Linked DNA regions of Homo sapiens. The protein of the gene in region 2 purifies or fractionates together with the protein of the main gene of each other region. This does not show direct contact. Each region holds a gene or a part of one and is shown on either strand. Other genes may lie near its edges. The genes, in order: ALDH9A1, USP46 and CNN2.

Region 1 (3,752 bases), on a different chromosome or scaffold from region 2:
TATGTTTCAATTCTGTTTGCAATGGACAATAATAAAATAATATGTGAGTGTGGCCTCAGGTATTCTGAGTTTGGGCACTGCTGTTTCCATCTGAGGACCAAGACCTACACATCTCAGTAGCACTGAAAAAGTGAACAAACTGGTATAGAGTGCCAGAAAACTTGATCAGAATACATTATATATACTCTAAACCTGAAAACCACACTCCCTAATATTGCGCTGGTGAGCTGGCAGGTAAAGGAAAAAACATTGAGAAAGACAGCAGCCCCCAGAAGAGAAACAATCCTAAAAGAAATGTCCAAATTGCCAATTACTTTCTGTTTGTCAAAGTCTCTACTGGAGGTGCATGGAAGTTTGGTGAGAAGAATGAACCTTTGTGCAAGATCCCTCAGCTGACAGACCTGTGAGTGCCTCTGGGTGGCTGCTTTGTCTTACAGAAGGCATTTTGTTTCCTGACACTTTTTCCTGTGGCCTTTGCTCTTCGTATTCTGTATGTTAGGCTTCTGTTTCTATCAATATTTGTCATTAATAGCATTTACATTGCTCCTTCAGAATTTATTTATTTTGAGACAGGGTCTCGCTCTGTTGCCCAGGCCTGAGTGCAGTGGCACGATTATAGCTCACTGCAAGCTTGGACCCCCGGGGCTCAGGGGATCCTCCCACCTTAGCCGCCCAAGTACCTGGGGCCACAGGCGTGTGCCACCACACCTGGATAATTTTTTTTTTTTCTGAGTTTCACTCTTGTCACCCAGACTGGAGTGCAATGGCATAGTCTCGGCTCACTGCAACCCGTCTCCCGGGTTCAAGCGATTTTCCCACCTCAGCCTCCCAAGTAGCTGGGATTACAGGCGCCCGCCACCACACCCAGCTAATTTTTGTATTTTTAGTAGAGACGGGGTTTTACCATTTTGGTCAGGCTGGTCTCGAACTCCTGACCTCAGGTGATCTGCCCGCCTTGGCCTCCCAAAGTGCTAGGATTACAGGCGTGAGCCACCGCGCCCGGCCCAATTTTTATTATTTTTATTTTATTTTTTTATAGACACGGGATCTCTCTCTGTTGCCCGCAAACTCCTGGGCTCAAGCGATCCTCCAGCCTTGGTGAGAGCCACAGCGCCCAGTCTCTCTTTAAGAATTTAAAAAGCAGTTTCAGATCACAATATCATCTATCTCGTTCACAGTCCCCTTGCTTTTTACTGTCACCCTTTAAAAAGCATTATACAATTACAGAAACGGTGGTTTAGCAGTGAAGTAACCACCAAAGACTCTTGGCACTCCAATCCTCTGCCTTCTTCAGGCGATAGGATTAAGAATGGGATCCTAGGATGCTTACATGCAATGATGAACCCGAAAACACTTGCAAAGTGCTACGCAAATATTGATCACGAAGAAGGAAGTCCTCTTCCCGCCTGGAGACTGTGTGGGGTATGGCGGGGTGGTGGGGAGAATGTGGTGTCTTGCTCCACCCTCCTGGCGAGGGGAGGGCCTGGCCTGGACCGCAGAGGAATCGAGTGACTGCCCCTAAAATCTCCTAGAACCGATCCCGCGGCCCCGCCCCTCCCGCGGCCCCGCCCCTCCCGCGGCCCGTCAGCCTCTGCCGCGGAGCTGCGTCCGCCACTCATGTTTCTCCGAGCAGGCCTGGCCGCGCTCTCCCCGCTTCTTCGCAGTCTTCGGCCCTCTCCTGTCGCCGCCATGAGCACTGGCACCTTCGTCGTGTCGCAGCCGCTCAATTACCGCGGCGGGGCCCGCGTGGAGCCGGCGGACGCCTCCGGTACCGAGAAAGCTTTCGAGCCAGCAACCGGTAACTGCAACGAGCCGGGGAGGCTGGGGCGCCCTGGGGCCGGATGCGCGGATTTCCCGGCCAGCCCCCGTTTCCTGTGTTCTGCAGCGTTGACTTGAGCACAAGACAGTGACAGTGGAGAGTCTAAGGTTGTGTGTGTAGGCAACTAGCGATTCTGGGGCAACGCGAGTGCCTCCGGGCAGGGATGGGTAGGGAGGAAAAGCAAAGCTGATGAGTTGCGTGGTAGGATCGTGAGTTGTTTTACCCGGGCCAGAACAGAGTTCGCAAAGTACTGGTGGGGGAAGTCGTGCCTCTGTTAACTTCCTTTTTTGTTTGTTTTGTTTGTTTGTTTGTTTTTTGTTTGTTTTGAGACAGGGTCTCACTCTGTCGCCCAGGCTGGAGTGCAGGGGCACCATCTCAGAGCTCACTGCGCCCTCTACCTTACGGGCTCAAGTGCTTCTCCCGCCTCAGCCTCCCTGGTAGCTGGGATTACAGGCTCCCACCACCATGTCCGGCTAATTTTTGTATTTTTAGTAGAGACGGGTTTTCAGCATGTTACTCAGGCTGGTCTCGAACTCCTGAGCTTAGGTGATCCTCCCGCCTCAGCCTCCCAAAGTGCTGGGATTACAGCCGTGAGCCACCAAGCCCAGCCAACTGTTCCCCCTTTTAAAACCAGGACTGATGTATTATTGTCTTCAAATGTGTGCATAGGAGAGGAATTCTAAAAGAACGGGGCGGGGTTGTGGGGAAGATAATCATTTGTGCTGGGAATGAAGGAACGCTCACAGATAGTTTCTAATGACTACGAATGAGGACTTTGTCTCCACATTCTAATATTAAAATATTTCTGCACATTAATCAGAATTGGGAAAGGAAAAAACCCCACCTTTATTCAGTACTTTCTTCCCCAGCTTTATTGAAGTATAATTAACAAATAAAAATTGTATATACTTAAGGTGTAAAACGTGTTGTAATGTATGTATACCTTGCAAAATGGTTACCACGGTCAATCTAATTATCCATTGCTTCTGCATAGTTAATGGCTTTTTTTGGATAGTGAAATATTTAAGATCTATTCTTTTAGCAAATTTCAAGTATATGATGCAGTATTGGTAACCATAGTCACCATGGTCTACGTGAGCTCTCCACAATTTATTCATCTTGCTGAAATAAAACTTTTTAATCCAGTGCTTAATGTGTGCTAAGCACTGTGCTAGGCACTGGATTTACTCTGGGAACTCTGAAGGTCACAGAGATAAGGAAGAAGGGGCTTTTTGTTTTGGTTTTGTGTTGTGTTTATTTTGCTGGGTTTTATGGAATATATGTGGGGAGAAAAATGTAAATATTTTGTGTAAAATGTAGCCAGAGCAATAAAACTGATTTGCAGGGGACTGGAGAATTTAGTATTTGACCATCCACACTAAACCACAGAGCAGTGACTTGGCAGAGCCAGAAGGCATTATCACATCTCTTCTTTATATAGGAGGAAACAGCTTCTCTACCCCGACTTAATCCTGATACAAAAGAAAGAAAAATTGCTCTTTGCTTTAATTGCCTACAGTGTGTGTGATCCTCAGCCACCGCCTTTACCAGCTGGCTATTCAAGTTTGTAACAGAAATTGCAGATTTGTGAAATCTCCCTGGAAAGAGTCCCAGGAGTTCTTGTGAAGAGGATTTGCTGAGTTGGCAAACTTAAAGAATTCTTGTTGGTAGAGGCAGTACAGTCCTTGGGCTATGGGCCTAGAAAAACTGATTGTTTCATAATTTGCACCAGAATAGGGAGAGGGAATAAAGGTGGAATAAGAAAAGGAAATCTGGGAATTTTTGAGAAAAAAAAAATGTTCCTTTAGGGTTGCCTTATCCTGATATTACTGCTTATTAACTATATTTATCAAGTATCAAGTAGTATGATATAACCTACATAGAATATAGACAAGGGATTTACAGTCAGAGTTTATAACCCAATAGACTGATT
Region 2 (3,652 bases):
CTTTCTAACTTTCTTATCACCTGTTCTTTTTCTTTTTTCTTTTTTTGATACAGAGTCTCACTCTGTCACCCAGGCTGGAGTGCAGTAGTACGATCTCAGCTCACTGTAACCTCTGCCTCCTGGGCTTAAGTGATTCTCCTGCCTCAGCCTCCCGAGTAGGTGGGATCATAGGCACCTGGCACCATGCCCAGCTAATTTTTGTGTTTTTAGTAGAGACGGGGTTTCACCATGTTGGCCAGGCTGGTCTCAAACTCCTGACCTCAAATGATCGGCCTGTCTTGGCCTCCCAAAATGCTGGGATTATAGGTGTGAGCCACTGTGCCCAGCCTCTAATCACCTATTCTTATAACTGATGTGTTAATAATTTCCTCATGAGTCCTTATGAAATGATATATATTTTTTAAACCTCTGTCTCTAAATAAGAGGTCCTAATGTTTAAGCAATACAAACAAAAATAATATTGGGTGTCTACTATGTGTTATATACTCTGCTAAGTACTTTATATAATTTACCTTTAATCTCAAGAGAATAGTGATTATATTTAATCATTACTTGTTTATCTAGCATAATATCTGGCACATGGCAGGGCTCAACAAATATTTGCTGAATGACTGAATGAATAAACAAATAAGTAAACAATCGGACAGACAACTCTCCAAGTTGTTCTCTCCAAGGTCAGCGTTCTTATCCCAGTTTCACTGGTGAGGAGGATAACTGACTTCCCCAAGGCTCCATGGCTACAAGCCCAGGTAGCTGAGATTGATTCAAAGCCAACCCTGCTGGGCCCCACAGTCGGGATCCTTCTCACCACACAAAGATAACCCTGAGCTAAATCTTTACCTACCTTTTCTGGGCTTCTTGTTTGCTGCAGCATGTTTCACAATAATATTTTTGTTCACTACACAGTGTTTCTGTGTTGCTGAAGTCTCTGTAGAGGAAAATATTTCCATCTTTAAAAAATGTCCAAATCTACTTGGTATACTATGTTTTAAATCCCTCAATTAACCTGTAGGGTAATTTTTAAGTAAAAATGGAAGAAGAAGTAATCAGAAAAAAATCCTACTTAAGACTAGGATGGTAGAGAAACTACAGGATGAAAAACAAAAATAAGCTAAGACTGGGTGCCATTACGGTGGTAGACATGCTCTTTTCATCGAATCATGAATTTACCATGAGAGATTCAAATATAGTTTTATTTAATGGGACACAGGCAGATATAAATTAGGGTTTCCAACTGGATTCAGAAAAAAAACTCATGATTTAATGGAGAATACCTATAAGCTAGAAATTAAAATCGTAATAGAAAAATACTGTTGAGTAAAAGTTCACCGTAAACACTAAAACTTAGATCCAGAAAGTAAATCACATAACATGCAAGGTGACATTATTGTGTAGTTAATGAAAAATAGTATTTCTCTGGTAGTCCATATTTTCAAAGAGCATGAAAGTAAAGATAATGAAATTTAAACCACATACAAAACTGCCCTCTTAGTGAACTAAAGAAATCCTGAATTAATCAGATGACCACCTCCTACCAACCCCTGCTCCCCACTGCTCCCCCGCCGGAGGAGATGAACTTTTGCCTGCCTCCTTTGGAGAACAAAAGCCATTGTGTTTGTCATATGTGTATCTGCCTTATCATGAGGTTCTACTCTGCTACTTACGGTTTTTATTTTTTAAATGTCATGGTTTTTCATTCTTTTCCAGCCATCAAGATTCTACTTAACATTTCTGTGGTACTGCTTCAAAGGCTGAAAAGAACATCTGGACTAATACCCTATAGTTTTGAAAAATTCTGGGGCATTTCCTTGTTCAGTGTCCTAGTACCATAATGACCAGATTTTATTAAACAGAAAATGTTATTTAAAATGTGTTAAATGATTCTACCACTTACACAGAACACATCAAAAGAAAACACAGATTCTTTCATTCATTAAGTCCCCAAATGTTTCCTGCCAGTCCTCTGGGCTAGGTTCTGGGGATCCACAGAGAATAACTGCCTTCATACGGCTCACACTTTAACAGAGATGTGTGCAAATGAACCACTGACAACATGAAATGATCAGTGCAGCTTCAACAGAAAGCATTACATGATTCCCCTGCTGAAATCCTCCAGCAGTTTCCAGTGCACTTATCCACCCTGCCTCCTTCTCTCTGCTCCAGCCACACTGGCCCTGGGAAATCCTCTTCTCACCTTAGGGTGATTGCAGGTGCTATTTTCTCAGCACTGAGAGCTTCCTCCCAGAGGCTTCCATGGCTGGCTAACCCGGTTGTTCAGCACTCAGCCTAAACATCCCCTCTTTGGAGAAAACTTCTCTGGCCACTTTGTCCAAGCCTATCCAGCCCCTATCACATTGCCGTCTTATTTCTTCCCAGCATCTGAAACCATTCCTCTGTTCATTTGATTACTTGCCTCCCCTCTATGTGGGCAGTGCACTTGTCATTCCTATATCCCCAGCATGACACACAATGGAACACATTAATATTTGTTGGTTGAATGAATGAACCAACCAAGACAGAAGCAGGTGTAAAGTCCAGGAGAAAGCACAGAGAAAGAGGGAAAGTGTGCCAGGTGAACAAGTGAATAAGGGTCAATGACTCCTGAGAGAGAACACTGCAGTGCAGAGGCCTGGAGGTAGGGAACAGCAGCGGTGACGTATTAGTCTGTTCTCATGCTGCTAATAAAGACATACCTGAGACTGGGTAATTTATAAAGAAAAAGAGGTTTAATGAACTCACAGTTTCACATAGCTGGGGAGGCCTCACAATCATGGCAGAAGGCAAAGGAGGAGCAAAGTCATGTCTTACATGGCAGCAGACAAGAGACAGCAGGTGCAGGGGAACTCCCATTTATAAAACCATCAGATCTTGTGAGACTCATTCACTACCACGAGAATAGTATGGGAAAAACTGCTCCCATGATTCAATTATCTCCGCCTGGCCCCACCTTTAACACGTGGGAATTATTACAATCCAATGAGATTTGGGTGCAGACACAGCCAAACCATATCAGGCAGCAAGTCACATAGCCTGGACTATGCTACCAAGAAGCCAGCATGAACCCTAACCAACAGTCTCAACAAAGAAACGACATAATCAGGTAGTGCTTTTTAGAAATTCCACTTTTGACAGCATGGTGGAGGGGGCATTGGAGAGGGATGAAAGGCAAGAAAGCCATTAGAATGCAAATGTACTAAACTTTCAGATTTCAAGTACATGGTGCATAAAACAAACTCATACTTAGCTGAATGAATACTTCAATTGAGTAAGTGCTGTGGAATCTTGTTTTGGCTGCATGGGATTGACTGGAGTGGAACGGGGAGCCAGAGGCAGGGAGATGAGTGTGGGTGTGATGGAGCTTCATATCCTCCCAATGTCTACTGCAGAGAAGCTGTACTACCAAGCTAAAGGGTCACAATAGCCAAAGAAAGGCCAGCAACAAATAAGGAATCATTCATTCCTACTCATTCTTATTTTCCCCAAAAACTTATTTGATTTGTAGACCCAGACAGGTGGAAATATAGCAGAAGTTAATACCTAATGTAAAGACCCATTTTACAAAGAAGCTTGCTGACAGAGTAATGCTCTTAGGGCATCCATGAGTTGAGAATTAGAAAATGAAGGTAAGTTAGGAGAAGGCGAGGACCCCAGC
Region 3 (3,110 bases), on a different chromosome or scaffold from region 2:
CAGGTGGGGCTCGCCCGGGTGCCCCCGACTCCTCTCCCTGCCCCTCTACACCCTGTGGTCTCGGCCCCTCCCTGGGGCCACCTCCAGCTTCTCTCCCCACTCTCAGTCTCAGCCCCTTCCCTAGACCACCTCCGGCTTCCCTCCCCGCTCTCTGTCTCCGCCTTGGATTTCAGCCTCTGTCATTTCCACCTGGCTGTGGGTCTCTAGGGAAGTTACTACCTCACCCTGTGTCATTTTCCCTTAAGGACTGCCCAAAGGTCCACCCAATTCTTTTTTTTTAATCTTTATTTATTTTATTTATGTATTTATTTTGAGATAGGATCTCACTCTGTTGTCCAGGCTGGAGTGCAGTGGCACGATCTCGGCTCACTGCAACCTCTGCCTCCCGGGTTCAAGAGATTCTCCTTCCTGCCTCAGCCTCCCGAGTAGCTGGGACTACAGGTGCATGCTGCCACACCCGGCCAATTTTTGTATTTTTAGTAGACATGGGGTTTCACCATGTTGCCCAGGCTGGTCTCGAACTCCTGAGCTCAGGCAATCCACCCGCCTTGACCTCCCAAACTGCTAGGGTTACAGGTGTGAGCCACCGCACCCGGCCACACCCAGCTAATTTTTGTATTTTTAGTAGAGACGGGGTTTCACTGTGTTGGTCAGGCTAGTCTTGAACTCCTGACCTCAGGTGATCCTCCCACCTCAGCCTCCCGAGTAGCTGAGACTACAGGCGCCCGCCACCACGCCCGGCTAATTTTTGTATTTTTAGTAGATATGGGGTTTCACCGTGTTGGCCAGGCTGGTCTTGAACTTCTGACCTCAGGTGATCCTCCCACCTCAGCCTCCCGAGTAGCTGGGATTACAGGCATGTGCCACCACGCCCAGCTAATTTTGTATTTTTGGGAGAGACAGGGTTTCACCGTGTTGGCCAGGCTGGACTGGAACTCCTGACCTCAGGTGATCCTCCCACCTTGGCCTCCCAAAGTGCTGGGATTACAGGCGTGAGCCAGTGCACCCAGTGAAGGTCCCCTCTTCTCTCCACCATGACCTGCTCCACCCCTCCTTCCTCTCCAGGTGGGCATGACGGCTCCCGGGACCCGGCGGCACATCTATGATACCAAGCTGGGAACCGACAAGTGTGACAACTCCTCCATGTCCCTGCAGATGGGCTACACGCAGGGCGCCAACCAGAGCGGCCAGGTCTTCGGCCTGGGCCGGCAGATATATGACCCCAAGTACTGCCCGCAAGGCACAGTGGCCGATGGGGCTCCCTCGGGCACCGGCGACTGCCCGGACCCGGGGGAGGTCCCTGAATATCCCCCTTACTACCAGGAGGAGGCCGGCTACTGAGGCTCCCAGCACGCTCTCTCCCCACATCGTCTGCCCATCTGGGTTTTTGGGTTTTTCTGTGTTTTCATCTTTTTTTTTTTTTTCTTAACCCGTTCAGTGCTGCCAGTCAACCAAGGGTCTGTGAGTGTCAGCGTGGGATCAGGCAGCAGAGCTTTTTTCCCCTTTGCCTTGATCCTTCGCAAGGCTGAGCCACTGGGCTGTGGGGGAAGGGGTCAAGGCCATATCCCAATACGTGTAGGGCGAGGGTCCCTGCTGGCACATTCAGGCTGTGCTGGGAAGAAGAGACCTGGGCTTGGAAGGAACCGGTCCCCGACGGTTTCTGCTTGCCTCGCCTCTTCCCCCTTTTGTCAGCTGAGCAGTTTGTGGTTTCTATGCCCGCAAGTTTCAGGAAGTATTCACAAAAGAAAAATACATTTTTTCCCCCAGGGGTGGGGCAAGGACAGTGGAGAGAGTGCTAGGAAATGAGTCCCCTGGGAAAGGGGACCGGGCCGTGATGTTAAATATCTCCGGCTCCCAAGTGACTGGATTTGCCTAGGACCTTCAGACCAACAGACTTCAGACCCTCAGACCTGCCCCGGGGCCAGGTGGAGAAAGTGAGGGCCGTACAAGGAAGTGAAATTCTGAGTTGTTGGGGCTAAGCCTGACCCCCTCTCCATGCTCCCCGCCCCAACCCACTCTGGCCTCAGTAGATTTTTTTTTCAGTTGTGGTTGTTGCCCAGGCTGGAGTGCAGTGGCGCCATCTTGGCTCACTGCACCTCCACCTTCCGGGCTCAAGCGATTCTCCAGCCTCAGCCTCCTGAGTAGCTAGGACTGCAGGTGCTCCACCACGCCCGGCTAATTTTTGTATTTTTAGTAGAGATGGGGTTTCCCCATGTTGGCCAGGCTGGTCTCGAACTCCTGGCCTCAGGTGTGATCCGCCCGCCTCCGCCTCCCCAAGCGCTGAGATTACAGGTGTGAGCCACCGTGCCCAGCCCCTCAGTAGGTTTTAAGGAGCCCCCAGCCCTCCTCCCTTCTGGGCCCGACCAGCTTATACTGCTCCATCTTCCCCGGCCACATGCCCCGCCAAGTACTGCACAGGGACCCCCCACCCAGGGGACCTGCTCCGTGAGATAATGTGAAATACGACTGTGGACCAAACGCAATAAAACCTCTGTTTGTACGAAGAGAAGGTGGCCAAGAGAGTTGGCGTCGATGAGGGCGTGCTTTGCTTTGATGCTTTTGTGGGGAGAGAGGAGGTCTTGGGGGATGGGGGGATCAAGGGGAAAATGTCCACCTCACCATTGGGAGGAGGAGCAAAAGCTGAAGCCACAGGTGAGTCTGGGTGGAATGAATGATTTGAAGGGCCGGGACTTGGGGTAGAGGGAGAGGCTGGGCTTCCTGGCCATTTGGAGAAGAGGCAGTTCCCTCAAATGCCCCCCATGCGCTTTGGCTGCACTCTACCTTACAGCGCAAGTCTCGTGGCCTCAGCCTGGATGTCTCCCCGTTGGCGAACTCCTATTTATCCTCAAAGCCCCAACGGCAATGCCACCTCCTGCCGCGGGAGCCGTCCCCACGCCTCTCACTCTCCCCAGCGCCTTCAAAGCTGTGGACCCACACGCTCCCATTTCAGCTTCACCTCCAGCCTGAAGAGTTTATTTCAACTCTTCTTCCAGAGTGGGAAACGGGTTTTCCTCAAAATCAGGGTAGCCACTATAATCGGAGACTCTAGAATGTTGGCCCCCTCCCCCTCCTGCCATCCTCTGCAGAAGCCGAGGAGCGTTCGTGGAATG

What was found.
Region 1: the proteins of USP46 (region 2) and ALDH9A1 purify together in Homo sapiens (affinity purification with mass spectrometry; one large-scale study listed by BioGRID and IntAct). This does not show direct contact.
Region 3: the proteins of USP46 (region 2) and CNN2 purify together in Homo sapiens (co-immunoprecipitation; one large-scale study listed by IntAct). This does not show direct contact.

What each region holds. Positions count from the first base shown.
Region 1 is NC_000001.11:165,696,424-165,700,175, reverse strand, and holds the start of ALDH9A1 (4-trimethylaminobutyraldehyde dehydrogenase isoform 1 precursor), read left to right. Parts: upstream 1-1,613; 5' UTR 1,614-1,617; coding exon 1,618-1,798; exon of another isoform or gene 1,799-1,926; intron 1,927-3,752. UniProt on the Homo sapiens protein: Converts gamma-trimethylaminobutyraldehyde into gamma-butyrobetaine with high efficiency (in vitro). Can catalyze the irreversible oxidation of a broad range of aldehydes to the corresponding acids in an NAD-dependent reaction, but with low efficiency.
Region 2 is NC_000004.12:52,603,657-52,607,308, forward strand, and holds part of USP46 (ubiquitin carboxyl-terminal hydrolase 46), read right to left. Parts: intron 929-3,652; coding exon 845-928; intron 1-844. UniProt on the Homo sapiens protein: Deubiquitinating enzyme that plays a role in behavior, possibly by regulating GABA action. May act by mediating the deubiquitination of GAD1/GAD67.
Region 3 is NC_000019.10:1,036,560-1,039,669, forward strand, and holds the end of CNN2 (calponin-2), read left to right. Parts: coding exon 1-3; intron 4-1,065; coding exon 1,066-1,341; 3' UTR 1,342-2,506; downstream 2,507-3,110. UniProt on the Homo sapiens protein: Thin filament-associated protein that is implicated in the regulation and modulation of smooth muscle contraction. It is capable of binding to actin, calmodulin and tropomyosin. The interaction of calponin with actin inhibits the actomyosin Mg-ATPase activity.